2 separate regions of the Homo sapiens genome follow, and region 1 is linked to region 2. Evidence: fine-mapped expression QTL. A gene starts in region 2. The other region holds a variant in brackets. All regions are shown on one strand. Distances are between the middles of the regions. Region 1 overlaps COA8 (cytochrome c oxidase assembly factor 8). Region 2 holds the start of COA8 (cytochrome c oxidase assembly factor 8).

The links. PIP is the estimated chance that this variant, and not a neighbour inherited with it, causes the effect. A credible set is the group of variants that fine-mapping cannot tell apart.
Region 1: its variant is the best candidate, but not a certain one, in a credible set for the expression of COA8 in whole blood (TOPMed, PIP 0.88).

Annotation. Positions count from the first base shown.
Region 1 is chr14:103,581,369-103,586,739 of GRCh38, reverse strand. The region is part of intron 3 of COA8 (cytochrome c oxidase assembly factor 8); the gene reads right to left. Among named protein-coding and RNA genes, the nearest start is that of COA8, 21 kb to the right of the region's middle. The variant T/C (reference allele first, on the strand shown) is at 2,720.
Region 2 is chr14:103,560,067-103,565,437 of GRCh38, reverse strand. It overlaps COA8 (cytochrome c oxidase assembly factor 8), which reads right to left and starts at 2,478. Exons shown (of 5, transcript NM_001370595.2): 1 at 2,314-2,478. The coding sequence starts at 2,436. It overlaps BAG5 (BAG cochaperone 5), which reads left to right and starts at 2,781. Exons shown (of 2, transcript NM_001015048.3): 1 at 2,781-2,822; 2 at 4,246-5,371. The coding sequence starts at 4,274. RefSeq lists a silencer at 2,524-3,173 and enhancers at 3,514-3,563, 3,663-4,176.

The sequences.
Region 1 (5,371 bases), 21 kb before region 2:
GGGGCCGGTGGGGGGTGGCAGAGGTTACAATGAGCCCAGATCATGCCACTTCACTCCAGCCTGGGCAAAAGAGTAAAACTCCGAATCAAAAAAAAAAAAGGCCAGGCGTGATAGCTCATGCCTGTAATTCCAGCACTTTGGGAGGCCGGGCTGGGCCGATCAGAAGATCAAGAGATAGAGACCATTCTGGCCAACATGGTAAAACCTCATCTCTACTAAAAATACAAAAATTAGCTGGGCGTGGTGGTGCACGTCTGTAGTCCCAGCTACTTGGGAAGCTGAGGCAGGAGGATCACTTGGGACCAGGAGTTCAAGACCAGCCTGGGCAACATAATAAGACCTCATCTCTCCAAAAAATAAAAAAATTAGCTAGGTATGGTGGTACATGCCTGTAGTCTTAGCTACTCAAGAGGCCGGGGAAGGAGGGTCACCTGAGCCCAGGAGTTCAAGGTTGCAGTGAGCCATGATCATACCACTGCACTCCAGCCTGGGCAACAGAGCCAGACCCTGTCTCGTTAAAAAAAAAAAAAAAAAAAAAAGGCCAGGTGCAGTGGCTCACGCCTATAATCTCAGCACTTTGGGAGGCTGAGGTGGGTGGATCACCTGAGGTCAGGAGTTCGAGACCAGCCTGGCCAACGTGCTGAAACACCGTCTCTACTAAAAATACAAAAATTAGCCGGGCATGGTAGCAGGCACCTGTAATCCCAGCTACTCAGGAGGCTGAGGTAGGAGAATTGCTTGAACTCAGGAGGTGGAGGTTGCAATGAGCCGAGATCGTGCCATTGCACTCCAGCCTGGGCAACAACAGCGAAACTCCGTCTCCAAAAACAAAACAAAAAAAAACAAAAAACAACAAAAAAGGGCCGGGCCGGGCATGGTGGCTCACGCCTGTAATCCCAGCACTTTGGGAGGCCGAGGCAAGTGGATCACAAGGTGAGGAGATCGAGACCATCCTGGCCAACATGGTGAAACCCCGTCTCTACTAAAAGTACAAAAATTAGCCGGGTGTAGTGGCGTGCGTCTGTAGTCCCAGTTACTCGGGAGGCTGAGGCAGGAGAATTGCTTGAACCCGGGAGGTGGAGGTTGCAGTGAGCCGAGTTCACACCACTGCACTCCAGCCTGGCGACAGAGCGAGACTCTGTTTCAAAAAAAAAAAAAAAAAGAGAAAAAACCTATAGAACGGGAGAAAAACATTTGCTAATCATCCATCTAATAAAGGTCTAGTATCGAGAATATGTAAATAACTTTTTTTTTTTTTTTGAGACGGAGTTTCGCTTTTGTTGCCCAGGCTGGAGTGCAATGGTACGATCTCGGCTCACCACAACCTCCACCTGCCAGGTTCAAGCAATTCTCCTGCCTCAGCCTCCCGAGTAGCTGGGATTACAGGTATGTGCCACCACGCCCAGCTAATTTTTTGTAGTTTTAGTAGAGACGGGTTTCTCCATGTTGGTCAGGCTGGTCTCGAACTCCCAACCTCAGGTGATCCACCCGCCTTGGCCTCCCAAAGTGCTGGTATTACAGGCGTGAGCCACCGCGCCTGGCCAAGAACTCTTTTTATCTCAGCAACAAAAAGACAAATCATCCTATTTATTTATTTATTTAGAGACAGAGTCTTGCTCTGTCACCCAGGCTGGAGTGCAGTGGCGCAATCTCGGCTCACTGCAAACTCTGCCTTCTGGGTTCAAGCGATTCTCCTGCCTCAGCCTCCTGAGTAGCTGGGATTACAGGCACGCACCACCATACCTGGCTAATTTTTGTATTTCTAGTAAAGACGGGGTTTCACCACATCGGTCAGACTGGTCTTGAACTCCTGACTTCATGATCCGCCCGCCTTGGCCTCCCAGAGTGCTGGGATTACAGGAGTGAGCCACTGCACCTGGCCAAATCATCCACTTTTAAAATGGGCAAAGGATTTAAACAGGAATTTCTCCAAAAAAGATACACGAACAACCAATAAGCACATGACAAGATGCTCAACACCACGGGAAATCAGAAAGACAAAGGCATGCCACGTCACACCCGCTAGGATAGCTATTATTAAACACAGACAATAACAAGTGTTGACAAGGATGTAGAGAAATTAGAACTCTCATACATTGCTGGTGGAAATAAAAAAATAGGTCAGGCCACTCTGAAAAACAGCTTTGTAATTCCTGAAAAAGTTAAACACAGAGTTCGTGATCATAAGACCCACGTGGCATTATAGAGAGGTATTTGGTCTTTGTCCCCTGTTCCTGGCACAGAGCTCCTAAAACCTCAGAATCTCCTGAGTGATGAAGGGTGATAGCAGCTGCTCCTGTTCGAATGGGGCAGCTCTGGTGGGCTCCTGTACTGCTTCGGGATGGGGGCCGGAAAGACCAAGCCTTGATTGGAAGCTCAAAACTTTCAGTTTTGGGGAAAGGAGAGGGAGTAGAGATTGAGCTAATTACCAACGGCCAATGATTTAATCAACCATGCCTACCTCATGAGACCTCCATAAAAATCCCTAAACCATGGGGTTCAGAGAGCATCCGGGCTACTGAACATATTGAGGTGCTGGGAGGCCAGGCACGGTGGCTCACGCCTGTTATCCCAGTGCTTTGTGGGGCCGAGGGAGGGTTGCTTGAGCCCAGGAGGCTGACGCTGCAGTGAGCCATGATCATGCCACTGCACTCAGCCTGGGCGACAGAGTGAGACCTGCTCAAAAAAACAAACAAACAAACAAAAGGTGCTGGGAGGA[T/C]GGCATGCCCAGAGAGGGCGCAGGGGCTCCGCATGCCCCCATACCTTGCCATGTGCATCTCTGCTATCTGGCTGTCCCTGAGTTGTATCCTTAATAATAAACCGCTAAGAGTAAGTAAAACACCTTTCTGAATGTTGTGATCCATTCTAGCAAATTATCAATCCTGTGGAGGGGGTCATAGTCTGATTTATAGCCTGTCAGGCAGAGGGACAAGTGGCCCAGGACTGGCAACCGGCAAAGGATGTAAACAGGAATTTATCCAAAGAGAAAGACTGCCTCAGTGGAGGCAATCTTGTGGGACTGGGTCTTTAACCTGTGGCATCAGACATGAACTCCAAGTAGACAGTGTCAGAATTGAACTGAATTGCTGGACACCTATAGCTGGTGTTGAGGAGTTGGAGAAGTGGAATTAGAGAAGACACCAGGTATTTGGTCTCAGGAGGAAAAAAGACTCTTTTTTTTTTTTTTTTTTTTTTTTTGAGATCGAGTCTTGCTCTGTTGCCCAGGCTGGAGTGCAATGGCACAATCTCGGCTCACTGCAACCTCCACCTCCCGGGTTCCAGCAAATTCTCCTGCTTCAGCCTCCCGAGTAGCTGGGATTACAGGCGCCCGCCACCACACCCAGCTAATTTTTTGTATTTTTAGTAGAGATCGGGTTTCACCATGTTGGCCAGGCTGGTCATGAACTCCTGACCTCAAGTGATCCGCCCACCTTGGCCTCCCAAAGAGCTGGGATTACAGGCGTGAGCCACCGCGCCAGGCCAAAAAGACTCTTAACTCAGCAGTTCACCTGTAGGTATACACAGGATTATTCACAGTAGCATAATTCATAATAGCCAAAGGGTAGAAATAATCCAAATGTTCATCAACTAGTAAGTGGATAAACAAAACATGGTATATCCGTATAGAATATTATACAGCCATTAAAAAAATCTCCAAAGTGCTAATACATGAGACAATATAAATAAATCTTGAAAACATTATGAACCTAAGTGAAAAAAAGGCAGACACAAAAGACCACATATTGTATGATTCCATTTATCTGGAAATGTTCAGAATAGGCAAATCCAGAGATATAAAGTGGGCTGCCGGGGTTAGGTGAGGCAGGAATTGAGACTGGCTAATGGGTGTGGGGTTTCTTCTTGAGGTGATGAAAATGTTCAGAATTAGTGATGTAGTTGTACAATCTTGTGACTACTAAAAGCCATGGAATTATACAGTTTAAAAGGGTGAATTTAGGCAGGGCACGACAAGGAGACTCCATCTCAAAAAAAAAAAAAAAAGGCAGGGTGAATTTTATGGTATGTGAATCGTATCTAAAGGTCACAGCATAATTCATTTTCTTCACAAGTGATTACGACCCAGGCAGGTATGTCTACCATACACAACGAGTGACGGGTTTCATCACGCACACTCCTGCAGGTTCTGCGGAGGAACTGGGAGCCACCGCTACACGGGAATGAAATGTGTCCTAACTTGAATGCATCCTAGGTTAACAGCCTGCCCATTCCTGGGACAGGTCCCGGCCTGACTACTCCAGCCCCGCGTGCTGGTGGGGCTGTTTACACATGAGGACCAGTGCCGCTTGCCTCTGTGGCACTCCCAGGGCGGTGGCCACGCTCAGGCTCACCCACACGCAAGAGAGGTAGGAAGGCCACAGGGCAGGACCCACAGCCCGTTACAGGGAGTGGCAGGGCTGCCCTGAAGTAGGGTCCCCAAAGCAGCCCAGGGGACAGTCTCATGCCCCCCAGCTATGGCTCAGGGACCAGGGAATGGAACCACATCCAGGGTGGCGGGTGCAGGAGGCGCACTCTGACTTAGCAGCCCCAGTCCCCGAACAGGAAGTGAGGTCTCTTGTAAGAGCGCTGGGCTCTGGCTCAGGGGCTCCTGCATCTCCAGCACTTCCCATGAGGAGGCGCGGAGGCCACGCTCAGCTCCTACCCAGGGTGCTCGCTAGCCTCCCCGGCAGACTGCCTTTCCCTGAAGGTGCCACCTTCAGCAGAGCGCATACCACCCTGTGGCACAGCTAATGCTGATGCTCCGGCCCAAGGGGGAGTGGGCAAAGTGGCCAAAGGCATGATTCCACCCTCCCTCCACAGAGCAGGGAGGGTGTCTGGCAACCCCTTTATTCCCACAGACAGAAACAAACACTCAGACGGCACAGCACAAGCACGGCTGTCCCCTAGCCACACGGCAGACAGGACAGGAGCCACGTGTCCTCTGGCCGCCCGGGCAGGTCTAGTGCCACCGGAATGAAGAACAGTTTAACTCTACAGCCCCCTGCTCTGCTTTTCCCTTCAGTTCTGCCATTTCCTACGTCATCTGGGGCTACTTCATTTTCTTCTGTGCCTCGGTTTACTCAACTGTGTAAGGGAGATGGCGGCAGCACAGCTGTCCCCTCCATCCATGGTTTTTCTTTCCATGGTTTCAGTTACCCGAGGTAAAGTGGGGTCTGAAAATATTAAATGGAAAATTCCAGAAATGAACAAGTCATAAGTTTTGAACTGCATGCTGTTCTGAGTAGCGTGATGAAACCTCCCAAGGTCCTACTCCGACCAGCCCAGGAGGCGACTCCTCCCTCTGTCCAGCACCTCCACAGTGTAGACGCGCCCCACTCGTTAGTTACTCAGCAGCCGTCTCGGTGATCAGATC
Region 2 (5,371 bases):
AGGTAAGACATAAGCAGGCATGAAGTGGCTAGGGAACAGAATTTAAAAGTCTTAATTTTTTTTTCTTTACCAAAAGCAGTTATATTTCTGAAAAGCTGAGTTTTAAAGATGGATTTGGAAGGAAGAATGGTGCCTGACTCTTAAGTTCTATAATATTTTTCAATTAAAAGCTGGTGCTGGCTGGGCATGGTGGCTCACACTTATAATCTCAGCACTTTGGGAGGCCAAGGCGGGTGGATCACCTGAAGTCAGGAGTTCGAGACCTGCCTGGCCAGCATAGTGAAACCCCATCTCTACTAAAAAAAGAAAAAAAAATTAACCAGGCGTGGCAGCATGCGCCTGTGATCCCAGCTATACTCAGGAGGCTGCGGCAGGAGAATTGCTTGAACCCAGTAGGCAAAGGTTGCAGTGAGCCGAGACTGCGCCATTGCACTCCAGCCTGGGCAACAGAGCAAAAACTCCATCTCGAAAAAAGAAAAAACGAACAAGGCAGAGAGGTCTCTCATCTTGAGAACAGACCCATGGTAAGATTTATTTTACTTTAACAAGAAGTCTAAGGCTGAGAGTGGTGGCTCACACTTGTAATCCTAGCACTTTGGGAGGCCCAGGCAGGCGCATCACTTGAGGTCAGGAGTTTGAAACCAGCCTGGCCAACAGGTGAAACCCTGTCTCTACTAAAAATACAAAAAAATTAGCCGGGCATGGTGGTGGGCCCCTGTAGTCCCAGCTACTCGGAAGGCTGAGGCACGAGAATCGCTTGAGCCCGGGAGGCAGAGGTTGCAGTGAGCTGAGATCACGCCACTGTACTCCCACCTGGGCGACAGAGGGAGACTCCAACTCAAAAAAAAAAAAAAAAAAAAAAAAAAGAAGTGTATATGACAATAGAGAAATCCTTATTTGGGTGCTGTTGTTTCTTTCCAGCACAAGTTCACAAAATAAGCTAGGGAAAATCCCCCCCGCCCGGGAAATGTCTTGGTTGATTTCCCGTTTGCTCTCTTAGAGCATTTTCAGACACCTGCTCTATCTTTCTGCCCAAAGATAGAGATGCTGGGTGGGTTTCTATGTTCTAGGGATAGAAGGCAAGGACTTGGTCACTGTAACACAGAACTGAGCTAGCCACTTGGGTGTCTGGTTGGCAAGTTGCCCTGGTAACTCCTTGTTTAAATTGTAAACTAGATAGACCTTCAAAGCTACAATTATGAAAGTGTACTAACAGCCACAGCCCAACAGAAATGAAAATGTACAAGCAAGTACATTTGCAATTTTTAATTAGCTTTTTTTTTTTTGAGATGAAGTCTCCCTCTGTCGCCAGGCTGGAGTGCAGTGGCGCGATCTCGACTCACAGCAACCTCCGTCTCCCGGGTTCAAGCGATTTTCCTGCCTCATCCTCCCGAGTAGCTGGGTCTACAGGCGCGCGCCACTATGCCCAGCTAATTTCTGTATTTTTAGCAGAGACGTTTCACCATGTTGGGCAGGATGGTCTCACCTCTTGATTTCGTGATCCGCTTGCCTCGGCCTCCCAAAGTGCTGGGATTACAAGCGTGAGCCACGGAGCCCGTCCAATTTTTAATTAACACTTTTTTAATACTTCTTTAATTATTGTTTAAACCAAGTTTTCCAGCCTCCTTCATTAGCCTGTTTGGTATTTGCATGCTTTGCTTGAATATTTTATCTCCAGCCCATTCCACACCGTTAGTCAACATTTTCATCTGACAGACGGAATCAAGGCCTAGGCCTCCCTTAAACAAAACATCCCTCCCAAAAGTACCACTTATAAAAATTGCTTGCCACAGACATTCTTGCTACAGACATTCTTTGCGGATCTTTGGCCAGTAACATGCATATACCCACACATAGTTTGCAAATAACAACTATTCAACGTGAAGTGCTACAAAAGTACGATGATAAAGTGCTCGCCGCTTGAAGAAAAGCACTAATAATTGTAACAAAGCCAAAACACACACACACACAACGAAAAAAAACGCACGGTAAGCCAAGAGCTCTTTAAAAATAAAAAATAATCATTCTCGGGAACAAATAAGGTAGGTACAAACTTGCCAGGTGACTCTGTTACGCTTAAAGGTTCTGGCTGTCAACAGTCCCCGGCGTGGTGGCGGCGGCACCCTCAGTCCCATCCGACTGAGGGCGTTGATGCGGGAGCCTCGGGGCTGCGGGACTGTTCGGGATAGGACGCGAGAGCACCTGGACAAAGGCCTGAGGCGGCTGTGCAGAACAGGGAGTGGCCCCGAGGCCCGGGTTTGTCTTCCCTTCCGGTCACCCCTCCCGGCCCAATGTCCCCAGGCCCCTGCTTACCCCGCTGGGCGCCGTATCCCTGCGCTCGGCGCCGCGCTCCGGAGCGAGTTGACAGCCGCGGCAGGCGAAGGCGCGGCAGAGAGGGGGGAGAAAGGTCTTCTTCCCCGCCCGCAAGACCACCATGGCCCCACGCCCCCTGGCTCCCGCGGCGCACGGCAGCATTGCGACGGCGCGAGGGGCCGCTTTACGGCAGGGTCGCGAAGCCCGAGGAAGCGCGGCGGCGCGGCCGACCGTGCGCTTTCCCAGCGGTGCGACGGGGTGAGGGGGCGGCGGGCGGCGCGGGCTGACCCGGGCGGCCGCTCCTTGGTCGCGGTCACTCCAGGCTGCCTCGCTGCGCCGCTGGCGGTGGGCGTGGCGCTGCCGGCGGCTAGGCGCGGACGCCGGAGGAGGTGTCCCCGGGTTTAGGGGTGTTCGGCCAGGGGCGGGGCTGCCGGGCCCGGGCGACTGCCGGAGCTGCGGAAGTCGTGGAAGCGTCGGCGACGCATCGCGCGATGGCGCGGGCGGGACAGGTGAGCGAAGCGCGGCTTGTAGCCTTTTCCCTCTCTCGGGGGGACGAGTGGGGCACCACCTCCGCGCGGGGCTCCCCGCTGGGCCACCCCTTCGCCAGCGCCCAGCCCCGTGCGGCCTGTCGGATCAGGCAGGGCAGAGTCGGTCTCGGCGCTGTCCCCGCCCCTGGGGTCGGAAGCGACCGGGGCTGGCCGGGCCTGGTCTCTGGTGTCTCCGGCCGGGCCTCGGTTCCCCTCCTCCCCCGGCTTCCCCCGGCCGGGCCGAGCTCCCCTCGCGCGCCCATTGTGAGGTCACGTCCTGCAGGCGCGCCCTGGCACCCGGGCCAAGACGCCCGGAGCGGCTGCTGCAGCCAGTAGCGGCCCCTTCACCGGCTGCCCCGCTCAGACCTAGTCGGGAGGGGTGCGAGGCATGCAGCTGGGGGCCCAGCTCCGGTGCCGCACCCCGTAAAGGGCTGATCTTCCACCTCGCCACCTCAGCCACGGGACGCCAAGACCGCATCCAATTCAGACTTCTTTTGGGTAAAGGGCCAAGAGGGAAGGGCGAGGCGGGGAGGAAGCAGCTCGGGCCGCCTTCCCTCCGTGGCCTCCAGGACATCCGCCGGGGATAGATTATGCGTTTCCATTGGTTACCCACCTTGAGCGAGCCGTTTGATAGAAACCAAGAGCTTGAAACGTGCATTAGGCCATTGTGGACTCCCAGTGGGAGGCGAGTGAATGAATTATTCATAGTTACCACGTTTTCGCGGGTTGTTTTTTTTTGAGAGAGTGGAGCATGTTGGGGGCTGAGGAGGTGTTGGGCCTCGAAAGCCCAAGGTGGTGCCCTTCAGCGCTGTCCCGGTCGCTCTTCTTTACCTGTGGGGTTTTAATCTCTTCAGGGAGACTTCTGTGAGGGAAGATGTGTGAGGAGCTAAAAGGGTGGGGAGGGGAAGTGCACAAAGGGATGGAGAGAAACGAAGAAGCGGGGACCTTGGGGATGTCTGAGAGCCACTGGTTTTTGTTCTGGTTCTTTCTTTTGCTTAGAGTTTCTGGAAACTAGGCATAGCTGTGTGGCGGGGCGGGGTACTGTTAGTGTTCGGAAGGTTACAAGAGCTACTGTTTCACCTTTCATAAAGGTGCCCTGCTGGTTCCAAATAGTTTGTGTCGCGTACGGTGACTCACACCTTAATCCCAGCACTTTGGGAGGCGGAGGCGGGCGGATCGTCTGAGACCAGCCTGGGCAATATAGTGAGACCTGTCTCTACTAAAAATAACATTAGCTGGGCGTAGTGGTGTACGACTGTAGACCCAGCTACTGGGGAGGCTGAGGTGGGATGACTGCTCAGAAGTATACCTTTTTAAAATGAGAATTTTAGAATGACTTAATATACCATTAGTGTTCTGCAGAAGCCTTGTGCTGTAGTAAGTTATCATTCTTGTCGTCTTTTAGTGCTTGTGAAACTGAACACAACAAAAGTATGGATATGGGAAACCAACATCCTTCTATTAGTAGGCTTCAGGAAATCCAAAAGGAAGTAAAAAGTGTAGAACAGCAAGTTATCGGCTTCAGTGGTCTGTCAGATGACAAGAATTACAAGAAACTGGAGAGGATTCTAACAAAACAGCTTTTTGAAATAGACTCTGTAGATACTGAAGGAAAAGGAGATATTCAGCAAGCTAGGAAGCGGGCAGCACAGGAGACAGAACGTCTTCTCAAAGAGTTGGAGCAGAATGCAAACCACCCACACCGGATTGAAATACAGAACATTTTTGAGGAAGCCCAGTCCCTCGTGAGAGAGAAAATTGTGCCATTTTATAATGGAGGCAACTGCGTAACTGATGAGTTTGAAGAAGGCATCCAAGATATCATTCTGAGGCTGACACATGTTAAAACTGGAGGAAAAATCTCCTTGCGGAAAGCAAGGTATCACACTTTAACCAAAATCTGTGCGGTGCAAGAGATAATCGAAGACTGCATGAAAAAGCAGCCTTCCCTGCCGCTTTCCGAGGATGCACATCCTTCCGTTGCCAAAATCAACTTCGTGATGTGTGAGGTGAACAAGGCCCGAGGGGTCCTGATTGCACTTCTGATGGGTGTGAACAACAATGAGACCTGCAGGCACTTATCCTGTGTGCTCTCGGGGCTGATCGCTGACCTGGATGCTCTAGATGTGTGCGGCCGGACAGAAATCAGAAATTATCGGAGGGAGGTAGTAGAAGATATCAACAAATTATTGAAATATCTGGATTTGGAAGAGGAAGCAGACACAACTAAAGCATTTGACCTGAGACAGAATCATTCCATTTTAAAAATAGAAAAGGTCCTCAAGAGAATGAGAGAAATAAAAAATGAACTTCTCCAAGCACAAAACCCTTCTGAATTGTACCTGAGCTCCAAAACAGAATTGCAGGGTTTAATTGGACAGTTGGATGAGGTAAGTCTTGAAAAAAACCCCTGCATCCGGGAAGCCAGGAGAAGAGCAGTGATCGAGGTGCAAACTCTGATCACATATATTGACTTGAAGGAGGCCCTTGAGAAAAGAAAGCTGTTTGCTTGTGAGGAGCACCCATCCCAT